Linked DNA regions of Homo sapiens: region 2 is linked to region 1. Evidence: fine-mapped expression QTL. A gene starts in region 1. The other region holds a variant in brackets. All regions are shown on one strand. Distances are between the middles of the regions. Region 1 holds the start of FYB1 (FYN binding protein 1). Region 2 overlaps FYB1 (FYN binding protein 1).

Region 1 (8,342 bases):
ATTTACTCCTTTGAGAATATTAACTTCATCATTTTTTTAATTGTGGAAAAATATAATTGCTAGTAAGTACAACAATAAGTACAGTATTTAATTTAGAGGACAGAGAAGCAAGCACATTGACAAGTGATAGGCATGAACAGGCTGACACCTCAAAGTCATCATTATACTGAGCAGACAGCACAGGATAGGGTTTCTCCACCTGGAGAAGAGGGGAGTGTGGGATGAGATAGGGACAGTAGAAAATTTGGGCTGGGGTATAAAGACAGAAATTCTTATATCTGAAATGGATATTTGATACTGGGAGTAGTGAGTTGAGAATAAGCTGACCTTCTCCATCTCTACTACACCCACCCCCACTCTAATTCTCTTACCTAGGGTTTTATCTCCTTGTATTGCACAACAGAGCTGCACCAGATAGAGAAGTGGAAACCTAGTTTTTACGTCCACAAAGAATGAGCTACTCATTGAGACATTCATCATTTGCTTAGAATTACTCTTGCATGGGGGAATGGAAGCCCTAAACATTTAATAAATATCCAGAAGCACTGAGGTGTTAGCTTGATTCTGTAGCAGATGTTAAGACCAAAAACTTTATTTAAGAAGCATTTGAATGATTTTTTTAAATTTAATTGCTCAGGTTTCCCTGTAATTTATGAAGGCCTTTAGTGAATAGCCACAAAAATAATGAAAACTTCATATTCAAATAATAACTTAATATTACATTACTGGTTTCCTTTAGAAACATAATGCAAGTAATTCTTTTCAACTTCACCTTCTGTCAACACCATCTCAAGGAGGACTATACATAAAGGAAAATATGCTCCTCATATTTTTATATTTTCCTCTAAATGATAGGGGAAAATACTACTACTATACGGTGTCTTAAAAGTCTTACATTAATTCTCCAGTTCAGAAAATTGGTTGCCTGTAGCCAAAGCATGTAGTAAAATAGGTTTGCATGAAAAGCAATGCTTTTGCTTTTATTTTTTTATTTTTTATTTTTAAATTTTATTTTATTTTATTTTAAGTTCCAGGGTACATGTGCAGGATGTGCAGGTGTGTTACATAGGTTAACGTGTGCCATGGTGGTTTGCTGTACTTATCAACCCATCACCTGGGTATTAAGCCTGGCATGCATTAGCTATTTTTCCTGATGCTCTCCCCTCCATTGCCCTCCCCCAACAGGCCTCAGTGTTTGTTGTTCCTCTCCCTCTTTTATTGATTATAAGACACATAACACAGAGTGACAAGGGGAGAATCAAATGTAATTATCAGCATCATCATCTTGTTGTAATCAAATAATATTACTGCACAAATTTTCCTTTGTGAGCAAAGATTTTATAAAAATAGAAAAATGGGTGTTTATTATTATGTAATAATAAGAAAAGCTCAAAATAAGATAAATTTGAGCAAGTATCTATACTTCCGCTTATTTCGGAAACATACCATCATGTTACTAAACTCACCTCATAGCATTTTAGTTGTTTTTATTAAATCTTCAAACCTTTCAGACACTACTAAGCATAGAGACCATTCATAACAAATGAAACTTTCAGTTTTTTAAACTAAAACTTTCTAAATGTGTACATTTCTTTTCTGCCTTTTTGGAAAGCAAACTTTTAAAAATGTATATACTTTTAGGACACAGAGGCTGAGAGATATAAATTGCTGGGCTCACCTTCCCTTTAGTGGGACAAATGCATTAAAAAAGAGCAAGAGTCCCACAAACCAGGAAGCTGCCCTTGGCCTCTAATACATTAATTAATGTTTATAAAGTGCCTTCTGTATGCCTGGCAATGTACTACAAGCTGGAAATCCAGGACAAATAAGCCACAGTTACCGCCAACCCTTAAGGAACTCATGATCTAGTGAGAAACACAGACATATCTCCAACAACTAAGAGAGAGTACAAGACGCCAGAGCTCAGAAGGCCTTACCCAGTCTTGTGGGACAAAGTTCAAAAGGAGATCATATCTACACTGGGTTTTGGAGCATAAGCAGGAGTTAGCCAGGTGAAAAAGGAGAGGGGGCAGTACATTCCATGAAGACAGGGCGTGTTGCTTGCTTTTGGAGGATTATTTCATTTTATTTTATTTTATTTTATTTTACTTTATTTTATTTTATTTTATTTTTGAGACAGAGTCTTGCTCTTGTTGGCCCGGGCTGGAGTGCAATGGTGCAATCTCAGCTCACTGCAACCTCCGCCTCCTTTGTTCCAGCAATTCTCCTGCCTCAGCCTCCTGAGTAGCTGGAATTACAGGTATGCACCACCACCACGCCCAGCTAATTTTTGGATTTTTTAGTAGAAACAGGGTTTCACCATGCTGGCCAAGCTAGTCTCGAACTCCTGACCTCAGGTGACCTACCCTCCTAGGCCTCCCAAAGTGCTGGGATTATAGGCGTGAGCCACCTCACCCAGTGGATTATTTTATTTTGTTTTGGCCATCTGAGAGAGGTTGGCAGAGAGGAGAAGAAAAACAAGTAATCCCAAATTCCAGTTAGGCTTCCTTCATGGCCCAAGATCAACTGTCCCATGTTAGGTAAAGTCTTCCTCAACTCTTCTGCCCCCATGCAGAAGGAATTACATATTCCTGGGTATTTCCAGATGCCTTTATTCATACTTTGAGCTTAATACTCATCACAGTGTGTCATGGTTAGTTATACAGTGTCTATCTCTATAGTGGTTATAATACATGTTTGGTTGCAGCAAAAGAGACACAACATAACACTGATTTTTAAAAGTTAAATGTCTGTCCTCCTGTTCCCTTCTTTATAACCATCTAGCAAAATCCAGTGAAGATGGGGTTGTCTCCTGTGTTGGGGGCCAGGTCCTTCTATCTCCTGGCTCTGTCATGCCTAGAGTATTACCTTAGTCATCACTGGATCAGAAGAGCTCAGGCCCCCACAGCATCCCAGCCAGCTGGGAGGGGAAAGCATGATGGGGCCCTCTTTTAGGACACACCAAGAAGCTACATAGATCCCTTCTGCATAGATCCCATTGACTAAAACTTAACCACATGGCCAAATCTAATGTCAAGAGGGACTAGAAAATGCCTTATCCTGTGTAGCTGTGGGCCAGGTAAAAAGCCAGAGATCTCTTAGGATAGAATAAGCATCCTAAACTTTTGGCAAACTTTTTCTGCAGAGGACTAGATAGTAAATATTTCAGGCCATATACGGTCTCAGCCATGTCATCATCATTGTTGTCATCATCATTGTTACCATCATTGTCTTCTTTTGCTTCTTCTCCCTTTTCTTACAATTCTTAAAAAATGTAAATTCTTAGCCTGAGGTCTGTACAAAACATTCCACAGGCCAGATTTGGCATGCGGGCCATAGTTTGCTGACCCTACTACTCTATAAGAAGGGAAAATCATACGGGGAGGAAAGTGACCATCTCTGGCATAACGTCTGTAAGATTATAAGCCACTGAGTGGAAAATCCTTGTCTTCTCCATCTTTCTAGTCTTGGCCAGTGCTTGACCCACACAGTAAGTGTTTGATGTTTATGAATGAATGAGTAGAAGGAAGGTGGGGGAGGTTAATTTCACAATCACAATTTGTTAAAATCTCATTTAGTCCCAATGGTAGCCTCTGTTTTGGGGGGTTTCTTTTCTTTTCTTGTCTTTTCTTTTCTTTTTTTCTCTTTTCTTTTTTGAGTTTCTTTCTTTCTTTCCTTCTCTTTATTTTTCTTTCTTTCTTTCTTCTTTTTTTTTTTTCCTTCAGACAGGATCTTGCTCTGTTACCCAGGCTGGAGTGCAATGGTGGTGCAATCATAGCTCACTGAAGCCTTGAACTCCTGTGCTCAAGAAATCCTCCCACCTCAGCTTCCCAAATGTCTGGGGCTACAGGCATGCACCATCACACTTGGCTAATTTTTTTTTTATTTTTGTAGAGACAGGGTCTCACCATGTTGTCAAGACTGGTCTTGAACTCCTGGTCTCAAGCAATCCTCCTGCCTCAGCCTTCCAAAGTACCGGGATTACAGGCATGACCCACTACACTCAGCCCCACTGGTGGTCTTTTCACATGGATTATCATCTAAATACTCCATTTCTTCCAGCCTCAAGAATAGTCTAACAGAGAGCCGACAGAGTGAGTCTAGTGGGCTTTCCACACATGAGTGACCACTCTTCAGTTGATATGGTCAAGCACACCACTTTACCTCCTGACCTCAGGTGCAATTAGCTTCCAAATATTCCACATGCTCCAGTGGACCTTTCTAATTGTAAGCATCCCCCTTTGGCCCCCATTGCAGGTGACACTCCTGGGTGTGTGGAAAGATTATGGGTCCAAAGAACTTACAGCTTCTTCCTCTTGAATAAACATGGTGGCAGGCAGGAGAATCTTGTTTTGGTTTTACCCTTTTAAATATCACATGCTTGGTGGGAATGTTAGCAGAAGTATCCAGGCTGAACAGACACTTTTAAGTTCCCCTTTCTCCTCCTTATTACTCAATATCCTGAGGGCATAATAGAACTTTTCTTGTCTAAGTTTGCCTGGTCAGGGGAGGGAGGTGTGGCTCACTCAACCACTGACCGGGACAAAACCCTGCCAGGCATCAGAAAGCTCCGCAGTTCTTGAGTTCCACATGCAGAGCAGATGCGACAGCTAGAAGTGAGTAGGGCCCAGACCCTGGCCCAGGAAGATCCACTAAAGGAGGCCATCCTTCCGCCTTCTTCTGCAGGAGTCAGGTAACAGCTATGCCTAGGTTTCTTCTTTCAAATAAATGTGTAATTTTTTATAGCAGGAAAAAAGCACCACTTCCAAATTCTGGCAGCACAGACTGTGCTAGCTGAATAACTGAAGGAAACGCATGTTCTGTTGGAAAATAGCAAAAGAGATGAACAGGAGACACTAAAACTCAGCCTCATGGTAGCCAAAAGGATGATAAGCAGATAAAAATGTGGCCGGGAACGTGTCTGTCACTTGCTCTTTCGTAACTGGATAAGGCCTCTCATGTGTTCTTGTTGGAACCTCTGGTGCCACTAGCGTTAAATAACGTCTTGCAGTGAAACCAGAAACAAGGTTTTATTGCCAACAGAGCTGGGCACAGATGGTTTATTTCATCCTGGTTCCTAACAAATATGTGTCCATCCTTTTGATGAGAAAGAGTAACTTTCAATTTCCTCCAAACCTGGCAGGAGGTGAGGATTCACATGAGATTTCTACATAGACTAAAGAAAGGGACTATACTGCCATGAATTATGCCTTCTCAGAAGGAATCCTGGCAAACTGGATAAATGATGACAAACAGCTGCAGATCAGCCAAGGAGGCCTTTCAAAGCAACCAGCAACTCCAAATTTTCCTCGGAGCCTTTGGCTGTCTTGTATACATTGCTGATTCTTCTGAAAAATTCACAAGGTCTTTTCCCCCCATTTAACTTGATTTGCAGGGAAGTAATTAATAGAAATGGGCCTCTGACTCTGCCTTCTATTAGCTGTGTGACTTTGGGAGAGCCACTTAACCTCTCTGTGTCTCAGTTTTCTCATCTAAACATGGGGATAATAATAGAACTCATCTCATGGAGTTGTTGAGGGGATAAAACTATATACACTTTTTGAGTACTAATGTAAAATAATAATTAATATTCACCATTTTAAATATTTTTTCATTAAATACAAATAATTCTGCGTGGGAAACAGATGGGCTTATCACCGGAAGGGTGAAGTTGTGGCTGTGATTTTCTGCCCATGCTATGGGAATGCCACCGGAGGTTTTAGGTAGAGTAAAACGTCCCCATGCAATGTGAGATACACACACTTCAAATAGTCCGATACCTTAAGAAATTAATCATAAGTGATAGGTGAGGGGGAGGAGGATAAGGGTGCTCTTTCCAATAAAACCACATGTTTTATGATGTACCATTAAAGGCGATCCTGAATATCAAAGGCGTTATGGTGCACTTAAGGCACCCCGTGGAAAAGTTGACCATCCGTTTCAAAAAGGAAAGGCTAAAAAGGTTTCCATTTCCCTTGAGAAATTATTGTAAAGGTTGAAATCCACACTGCCTGACTGTCATGTCCATTATTTGTTTACTACCATTGGGCTTCAAATTCCCCCCAGCTTCTGCTGGAGTCCAGAGGCTTGGAAGCTCGCAGCAGCTGATTTCTGGTGCAATGCTGCACCTTGCCAAGTTACGGCTGCTTCATAGAGCAATCACACTGACATCTAGTGGTCTAAAGAGTAAGTGCAGGCGGTGGCTTTGAAGCTTTTACCAGCCTCAATGTGCTTTAAAAACCACATTTTCCACCATTTACACAATACGTTAACAAGAGAGAGAGATCAGGGATGTAGAAATGATATTTCATTTGTCTGAGGTGTTACTAGAGGCTGCTCTACAGGAACATTTCTAAAAACAAGAAAGTGAAGAGAGTGAACCGTGGCTCGCTGGCGGGTTTGGGCTGTGGTTCCAGGGGTTGCGGTTAAGACTGTGACTCCAGAATCAAGATCCTGAGCTTGAAGGTGGTCTCTGCCACGCACCAGCTGTGGGCCTTGGGTGAGTTCCTAAATGGTTCCATGACTCAGTTTCTTTATCTGTCAAATGGGGATAACAGTAACGTCTCCATTGACCTGTTTTGAGGTGATCCCTGAAAAGCTCCTAGCACAGCACCTGGCCCAGAAGGCAATCGGGGTTGCCCTCTGTTCTTGTTGTGACTGTTTTTTAAGAGCAAGCTGCTGCAGAAGCTGGCACCCCACAGGTCAGACAGCATAGCGCAGTGGAAAGCTCAGAGGATGAGCAAGGGAGAGACCCAGATTTTAGCCCAACTGTGTGAACCTGGACAGATCCCTTACGCAGTTTCTTTTTTGTAAAATGAAGGACCTTGGTTCGCTAATGTTTAAGGATTTTTTCCTTTCTCAAACGTTGTGTTCTAAACCTTGTACAGGCTTCTAATTGAAATTGTTCTACCTTTAAGGCCCATTTGTCTCCTTTCTTTTTACCAAAGCCCAGGGCCAAGCATGTCCCAGGTGTTTATTATATAGTTGCTGACTGATAAGAAGTGATTGTTGGAATGCTCTCTATTGGTCACTAGGAATAAACCAAGAATGTCTTTGGGCAGGAATGAAAATCCAGTGGGAAGCTCTGGAAGTCAAGGAATATTTCCCCATCAGAAGCTGGTCTGGGGTTTCTCTGATAAATTTGGAAAGCTCAGTGGTTGTCTTGTTTTTCTACCTCTGCTAATCAGCCTCTCTAAACAGATAAGAAACCAGGAAAATCATTTAGCTATATAAATTCAATACATAACCTTGTTAATCACGTTGCTGCAGCCTGCGCCTTGTGAGTTGGTCAGAGCAGTGGATGACTTTGCTTCTAAGTGCAGGTGAAATGCCACCAAATTCACATGCTGCCTGTGACCAATGCCTAACTCAGTCTTTCCAAGCCAGGGATAATCCCAGCTGGGATGTCACCTCTAATATGGCAACAAATGGTGGTGCAGCAAAAAATAATCATGAAACAGTCTTTCTTCCCTTCTTCCTAAACTTCATCCACATAGACTGTTGGATATTTATAGAAATCCAGCACAAACACAGGGAGGGGAACGACACACACTGGGGCCTGTTGCAGGGCAGGGGGAGAGAGAGCATCATGATAAATAGCTAATGCATGTGGGGCCTGATACCTAGGTGATGGGTTGAGAGGTGCAGTAAGCCACCATGGCATGCATTTACCTGTGTAACAAACCTGCACATCCCGCACATGTATCCCAGAAAGAACTTAAAATAAAATTTAAAAACAAATAAACAAAAGAGTGAACAAAGGAGGGAGCTGCGGGTAGAATTTTAACAACATGCATACCACTATTTTTATATTAGAGATTTCTAATATATGCTAATATAAATATATGCAATATTAAAAATCGTATTATACACACACACGAAAAAAGTTTAATTTGGGAGTTTTGTAAGGGCGTGTATTATTTTCCTGTGGTTTCTGTAACAAAGTACCACAAACTAGGCAGCTTACAACAACAGAAATCTATTCTCCCTCAGTTTTGGAGGCCAGAAGTCTAAACTCAAGGTGTCAGTAGAACCATGTTCCCTCTGGAGGCTCTAGGGGAGGATTCGTTTCTGGCCTCTTCCAGCTTCTGGTGGTTCCAGGGATTCCATGGCTTGTGGTTGCATCACTAAAACCTCTACCTCTCTTGTAAAATGGCCCTCTCCTCTTCTGCTGTCTCTTCTTCTCTATCTTATAAGGACACTTGTCATTGGATGTAGTGCTACCTACATAACCCAGAATGATTCCGTTGCATGATCCTTAATTACACCTGCAAAGACCTTTTTTCCAAATAAGGTCACATTCACAGGTTCTGATACATGGGCGTATCTTTTTGGCATATACA
Region 2 (8,342 bases), 23 kb after region 1:
ACCCCCAGGGGACATTTGGCAATGTATGGAGGCATTTTTGATTGCCACAACTGGAGGGTGCTACTGGCCTCTAGTGAGTAGAAGCTAGGGATGCTATTGAACATCCTACAATGGCCAGGACAGTCCCACAACAAAGAATTATTCAGGCCATAATGTCAATAGTACAGAGATGACAAGCCCTCCTTTAAGTGACTGCAAATATCCACACAATTCATCATGTTTCCTAAGCCCAGTATTCAAATGAGAAAGGAGCAGTACTCATGAAATGGTACTTTGTGTTTCACATTTTAGCTATTTTCCATTTCTCAGTATAAAGTTTTCTGAACTTTTATGATTCATAAAGTAATATATAGTTAGGAAAATGAGCCAGACAAAGGAGTACTTTACTCTCCTTTCGGGTAAATAGTTTAAATTTCTACCAGAGATATCACTGCAATTCTCTTGGATGTGGTACTGAGTGACTGCATGTAAGAAGCTCACACATGCCTGAGATGATTAATATTTTAGGTAAATGATGTGCAACTGTTGTTTATTGTGAGGGGGAAACAAGATGCCTACAGGTGACCACACTACTTGTAGTCGCATCTTTCTCCTTACCGAAGTATGGTCTAGTTAAAGCAATTCTAAGCCTAAAGGTTGTTTTTCGTTTTTGCACTGTAGAAACATCTTGCGATATGTTATCTTCCTGAGTTCAGTATTCTCCTTGTTCGTAAACAGCTTAGTGATCAAGTCCTCTGCTAATTCAAACACACAGAAAGCAAGTTTGGAATGATCCCATGACCATCTGTCTTCCAGAAAGGTTCATCCTTGTTTCACATTGCATCTCCTCCTCATCTGTCATCTTGTTTCATTACCAGGTCATAATTCAGAACTATTATTTTTGTGAGACTTTCTAAAAGGTCCCTTATTTCTCTTATTTCTTCACCTCGGATAAAAAATTTAGTATTATGACCTCCATTTTATGGCTGTGACTTCACACCAGGGAAGGAGTTCTGATGTTAGGCAGAAATCCCTGGGAACTTTCTTCCATCTTTGTTTCACTCCCGCTCCAGTGTGGGTGGTGGCAGAGCATGGTGGTAACACATGTTGCCCGGTGTCACGCTTTTCAGTGAGTTGCCACAAATGCTAACCAAGTCCTCTTTCTGACTCTGAAGGCCTGACAAGGTCTGATTTTTAGTGAAGTAAAGCTACAAGGGACCCAGGCAGAACTGCAGAGCAGACGGAGTTTATCCTTGTTCTCCTTCTCCTCTCCTTTGCAACCCTCCCCTGCTCCTGAATGCTTCCTCACTGTCAGTAGCCCATGCCACAGTTCACATTTTAAATCCTGTCATCAGTGTAACCCCCTCAACATCTGATGCCTTGAGATGTATTATGCTCCAAAATGTATCCTGTTCTCTATTCATTCACCTCTTCCACAAATCAAAACTCAATCCCTCTTAATCTAGATTGACCTCATTTGATATCTGGATTAAGCAATCTGATTCATAACTTTAAACTCTGAATAATACCCCTTTAAAGCATTCACCTTTTTAAAAAGCATTTGAATTCTTTTATCTTTTAAGTAGAAATTACATTCTGACTGAAAAAGCAGTAAGTGTAAAATGGTGTACAGTGAAGCTACCTTTAACCCTTGTCTGCCACTTTCTGGGTCTTTCCAGCCCCTACCCCATAGAAACCACTCTTCTTAATTTCTTATATGTCCATCTGAAGTTTCTTTATGTTCACAGAAGCAAATATGAACATAAATACTACCCCCCACCCCGGCTTTTTACTCATGAAGTAGAATATTATGTGCAATGCTCTGATCCTTGTATTTTTAAAATAAATAAATCCTGTATATCTTTCCACATTTTAATAAAGAGTAACTGATTATTCTCTAGAGTTGCATAATACTTCAGTAAATGGGTGACAAGCTTAATCAATTTAACAATTTGTGTTGTTTCCAAAAGCGTTCTTTTGCAACAATACTGCAGAAAATAAACTCGTGTATGTGTCATAAAGTAAGCATTTATTTTCTGAACACAAAGTTTTTTAAGTCAGGTCTGCTGACTCTTGATCCTGCCACTGCTATTTTTCTTAAACAATGCTAGAAATACTAAGTAATTTACCATTTCATTTAGGAAGGTTAAAATATATCAGAATTAGAAAGTATATGTTCATTTTATATAACTGGATAAGCAATATAAAGAAAAGAATTAAATTTCTGTTGTAGCAAAATTTTTTAAAATTCTGAAATTCTATTTTTTATAATTCTGGAGTATGTAAGTAGAAAATAAATAATTATTAAATAATTAAATAATAATATACATATACGTATACATAAACATGTGGTATATTGTACGTACAGTCTTTAGATGGGAAAATTCTTTATTAAGTGTAATTATCGCCCCCATTTCACAAATGAGTGTTGAGATGTGACATAACCAAATCATATATCTGAGGCTAAAATCCAAGTCTTCAGATTGCAAGTTTAATACTTTCTCCATGTACCATCGTGCCCCTGTATGTATGTTTGCATGTTTATGTTTAAAGCATAAGTGTATTATTTATTTATATAGAATATATATGCAGATATTCCTTGACTTGTGATCGGGTTACATCCTTATAAACATTCTTAAGTTGGAAATATTATAAACTGAAAACACGTTTAATATACCTAACTACCAAATGTCATAGCTTAGCCTAGCCCACCTTAAACATGCTCTGAACACTTACATTAGCCTACAATTGGGCAAAATCATCTCACACAAAGCCTATTTTATAATAAAGTGTTGACTATCTCATGTAATTTATTGAATACTGTACCATGGTTTCTACTGAATGCATATTGCTTTTGTACCATCATAAAGTCAAGTAATCATTAATTTGAACTGTCATAAATAGGGCACCATCTGTGTATGTATACATATTATTACTAATATGTACATGGGATTTTAACTTTTTTCAAAGGACTTTCAAAATGTTTATGTCTTTTATTACTTATAATGTCCCATGAATTAGATACAGCAGTTTAATGAACCCATTTTAAACCAATGTGCAGAGTTGCCAGGTTATCTATTAGTAATGTTATTAATGGTACAGAGCCTAGCATGAGAGTTGTTTGCCATATAATGTAGACTTCAAAGTCAGTGGACCTGGGGTTTAAGCATGACTAATGTACTAGCTATGTGACCTTCGCTTTACCTCTTTCCGTGTATGTCTTTCTTCATTTGAAAAAACGAGTATAATACCACCTACTTCGCCAGCACATTATAATCACTACATGAGATTCGTTGTAAGTGCTTAATACAGAATTTGACATATAATAGTATCAAAATAAGTGAGCATTGTCTATAATTTTATTACTTTTATTAGCATTAAAATTTTATCACCAGCCCCATGATATTCTGATCATCTTATAGTATAAATCATTTTATATTATACTATATTATTCTAGGAATCATGAAACTGCATTTTACTTACTTCTGTTTGTAATATAGAAATGTATTTGTGATTTATGATGCCAGAGTCAAACAATGATTGTTGGAAGAGAGGTTTCCCACCAGAAGTCCATGAAATTTCTGCGCTCAGATGCCTCCTTCCCTACAGCAAAGGCTGGTAGAGAGCAGTAGGCGGCACCCAAGTGGCACTAGGTCACAAGTGCCCCCAGATTTTGCCATCTCCTACTGGCTGAAGCCAAGCGAAGGCATCTGACTCAGCCAAGCAGAGGTGGAGAGGCTGCAAAGCCAGTATAGATGGCTGTTATCCCAAGACACTGGTATTATCAAAGGCAGTTTTCGAAGGTCATTGTTTCCAGAGTGCATTTGCTTTCCCCATTACCTGTCAACCTGGAAGAAATAAATAAATGTGGCCAATGGATTTGCTCTGGATTATGATTGGCCACAGCTGCTTAGATTGGCAACTTCCAGGGAAAATGCTTCTTAGTGTGCTGCTACAGACCCTAAAATTTTTTGAGATTGGAGTTTTTACATGAACTCCAACAAAAAATGCCCTAAACACACCTGACTAGGCATGAATTTTCATATAACAGGGCTTCCAGATAAATTATTTGCTGCATGGTATAATTAGAAAATTATTTATTTGCTTGTAATAAAATGGGAAAGAAGAGAGATTCTATGCTTTAGAAAAAATGAGATTCTATTACTAAATATTTATTCACTAAGATTTAATAG[T/A]TATTGACGGGAGCAAAATGAAATGCCTTGCTCAGTGAATGCAGAGACTCCAAAAAGACTATTTTTTCTTGTTAGAAGTAATTATACTAGTGTTCAAATTAACAAACATTCATCTAATAACTCTATATGCCTTTTAAACTAATACTGTTTTCATAGCCTTCTACCTCATTTCTTCCTTTCCAGGTTCTCATCCAATTCTTTAAACCTCTTCCCCAGATATACCCTCCATCTCATCATCTTTGCCCAATGTATTAACTGTTAAAAATATTCATCATTTATTGAGGACTTGCTATATACCACATACACATTATGCCGTTTATTCCTCTCAAGCCATGAATAGGAATTCTATGAGTAAACTAAAGCTCAGAGAGGTTAGGTAACTTGCCCAAAGGCATAACATGACTAAACAAGGCTGGGGTCAATCTCATGTCTTTCTGATTCCGCAGACTGTGTTCCCACCCGCATTCCACTTCCTCGTGCTGGGCTGCCTCTCTTCAAACACAGAATATCACAAGACAATGAATCAAGCATAAATGAAACTCCCAAAATCCTCATTCCTCTCCCTTTCTGTGGCCTTTGGTTGAAACATGCCTTTTGTTTGTTGTCTGTTTTGTAAATACCACTATAAGCTCCATGAAGACAGAAGCCAGTCTGCTTGCCATTCTCTCATTTGGAGTACAAAAGTAATATAAATTTTTGTTAGCTTCTCAAGTTTATTCTTTCACAGAATTCTATTTAACCAGACCGGGTGCGGTGGCTCATGCCTGTAATCCCAGCACTTTGGGAGGCCGAGGCGGGCTGAACACCTGAGATCAGGAGTTCAAGACCAGCCTGGCCAACATGGCGAAACCCCAAAAATACAAAAATTAGCCAGGCATAGTGGTGCGCACCTCCCAGCTACTCAGGAGGCTGGGGCAGGAGAATCATTTGAACCCAGGAGGTGGAGGTTGCAGTGAGCCGAGATTGCACCACTGCACTCCAGCCTGGGTGACAAAGCGAACCCTATCTCAAAAAAAAAAAAAAAAAAAGAAAGAATTATATTTAACTAGAATTTATTTACTCCCAGATTTTGTTCAGTATTAGATTTTAATACTCTATAGCTTAGCAATTGTTTTAACACAATAGATAACCCCTGCCAGTAGACTTGTACTCAACTGAATGGAGCTTGGACACAAAATAAATGTTATAAGAGAGGGTCTATCTTGCAGATCTATTGAGCTCCCTTCCTTGTAAACTGTAAGCTTGACTCTAACATGTTGCTTTCTGATCATGAAGCTAAATTTTTTTTTCCTAAGAACAATTTAAGGTTACAAAAGACTAAACGTTTTTTTTAAAAAAACCCAAAATATCAAAATATTCTCTGAACTAACCTTTCCTTTGCTTCCTTTTGGGTCCTGAGCCAGTTCTGAAAGGGCTTCTTCCCATGTGTCAACACAATGCCTCACCAAAGTTTGGGTTCATAAGAATCCCTGGCCTGACTATTGGTTTGCATGTATGATTTAGTAAAAACCTGCTGGGAAATATTCAGTTTGACCCTTTTTTCTAGTCTTGTTCTTAATACTGCTGAGAGACCAAGACTGATTTTTTCCATATGTTAGCTATAGGAATGATCAGTTAAGCACCTTGACAGCAACAGGTGTAAGGCGAGGGCCCCAGAGGGCATTAACAAAAGACTGATGGCCCCCTCCTCATCTGTGTATGTATCATTTAACTAATCCAGCCTACAACAACTTGAAACCAAAAGGTGCCTGGGCTATTTTCACCAGCAAGTAACTTGTTTCCAGGAGTGGGTAAGATTTTCCTTCACAGGCCCCAAAGCTATCACCTTTCTTTTTCCCCCCATTCTCCTTTTATGTGTACTCTCTTAACATGACCTTATTAGATATTTACATATTGAAAACTGTTTTATATCAGCATGTGGCAGTATTTTCCAAATTGTTGCTCCTAGCCACCACAGGGAAAAAGGATTCTATGTTCACATTTTAGAAACGTAGCGGTAAGTGCTATTCTTTAAAGCAAGATTTCTCCAAGTATTAATATGTCACTGTGCACTGGGAACGTAAGAACATGATACAAAAAGAAGAGATCCCGGGATGCTTTGACTGAAACGGCTCACAGACTGGACTATTACAGGACACTGAATCACTGGAGGCAAAGCTCTCTCATACACAGACTGGAATTTGGAGTTGCTCAACGGCGTGGTTCAGCTTCGGGTAACAGCCAGGCCCTCAGCACACCCTGCACGCTCGTTCTCCCAGGACCTGGTGCACACTTTGTGGCTGGTGTCACTCTTCTTTTTACTCCAGCCCGAGCCCAATTTATTCCACCCACCCTCCTTAATCCCTGAAAAAGCAGTTGTCCAGAAGACCTCCAGGGCTTCTTCCTTCTGGTGCATGTTGACGTGTCTGAGGAACACACTTACTATTAATCAGGCAGCTTACCTGGGTTTAACCCCATAATCGAAATGCCTCAGAAAGACTCTCTTCCCTTAACCACACTGTCCCTGGTCAAATTTTACGAACTACCCCTATTAATCTTCCCTCTTTGAAACTTCTTTCTTCTGCTCTTCTAAGATAAGCCAGCAAACAAACTGTTCCCTCTTGTTTCCTATCCCAGCAGCATCCGTTGGTCTTTTTTAATGCAAGATATCCTCCCTTCCTTCCTTCCTTCTTTCCTTCCTTCCTTCCTTTTTCTGTCTTTCTTTTTTATTTTTTGAGACAGGGTCTTGCTTTGTCACTCAGGCTGGACTGCAGTGGCACAATCACAGCTCACTGCAGCCTTGAACTCCTGGGCACAAATCCCTCCACTTCAGCCTCCCGAATAGCTGGGACTACAGGCACATATTACCACGTCCAGCTTTAGTATTTTTTAAATTTTTTGTAGAGACAGAGTCTTGCTTTGTTGTCCAAGATGGTCTAAAACTCCTGGCCTCAAACAATCCTCCTGCCTCAGCTTCCCAAAGTGCTGAGATTACAGACATGAGCCACTGCACCCAGCTAATGTTTCATTTTTATAAGCAGTCTACATGGTCTTTATTTCAAGATTCTGGCATTTAAATTTACTGTGGAGAAGTATGCAGACAACCTAAATTTCCCTCTTTGAAAATGATTTGCTTTTCTGCCTGGATTTCCAAAGAAATCTTTGTCCTTAAGGTCAAGAATCTTAGCCAGGATATGTCTGTGTCAATCATTTTATCAGTATTCTCTCAGGCTCTCAGGAATTTACTGTGCTATATGAATAGGGGTCACACTAGTTCTTTTGATCTGGCTGATGGATGACAAGTGCATCTGCAAGTTCTAATCCAGTGTGATAAATTTGCCTTCCCCTCAGAATTGCGATTTGAGTTCTGAGTGTGACTTTGAATCCACTCTTCTGTGGCATAAATGTTAGCTGTGCTCGTCTCCAGGGTAGTCCTTACTGGGGACCCAGATTCCGTTCCATTTTCTGAGATCTCATTCAGTGCCCTGTACCAGGGCAGGGCCAGCCCTGGCAGCTCATCCCCCTTCTGCCTCTCGTGTGATCCTGTTGTGGTATTTAGGACTTTTATGCTGAAGGATTTTCCTTGACCTTCCCAGGCTGCTCACTCACCTTACAGTTTGCTTCTCCAACCTGGAGTGTATTAGAGAGAATTCACAGGCTTGTCTAGAACCACTGTCTTCCCCCAGTATTGCTTCTGGATGTAGAGAACAGGTGGGAAGGTTAGCTCTCCTCCGGTGGCACCAGAACCTTCTATTTCTTCCCTTAGCCATGACTTTTTGAAGTTTATGCATGATGTTATCTTCCCTTTCTTGTGAGGTGACCGCTAGTGAGTTTTAGATAATGTTTGCCTTGACTTATTTTCTTTTTTAGTATTTTTAACTTGGGAATTGGAGGAGGGACACTCTGAAATTTCCCATCCTCATTTTTAAATACCAACTAAATACTTAAATTATAGTCTAAGGATCAACATTTCCAAAAAGATCATCGATTTGCTCCCTCACAAGGCAGACAGCAAGATGGCAGAACTATTAATAACATGCATTGAGTGCCCACCCCAAGCCTTGTTCCATGCTCTCTGGACCATGCTCACTGGTCAAGGACACTCAGGTGTCCTCTAACCCCTCCCCAAGTCTCCTACTCTGAGGAGTCTTGTGGACATGATCCCAGTGGGGTATGGGGAAGTTCCAGGTC

The links. PIP is the estimated chance that this variant, and not a neighbour inherited with it, causes the effect.
Region 2: its variant is fine-mapped to the expression of FYB1 in whole blood (INTERVAL, PIP 0.94).

The regions. Positions count from the first base shown.
Region 1 is chr5:39,215,794-39,224,135 of GRCh38, reverse strand. It overlaps FYB1 (FYN binding protein 1), which reads left to right and starts at 4,573. Exons shown (of 19, transcript NM_001465.6): 1 at 4,573-4,693. RefSeq lists an enhancer at 2,996-3,497.
Region 2 is chr5:39,193,067-39,201,408 of GRCh38, reverse strand. All of the region lies in intron 2 of FYB1 (FYN binding protein 1), which reads left to right. Among named protein-coding and RNA genes, the nearest start is that of FYB1, 22 kb to the left of the region's middle. RefSeq lists an enhancer at 6,568-6,862. The variant T/A (reference allele first, on the strand shown) is at 4,173.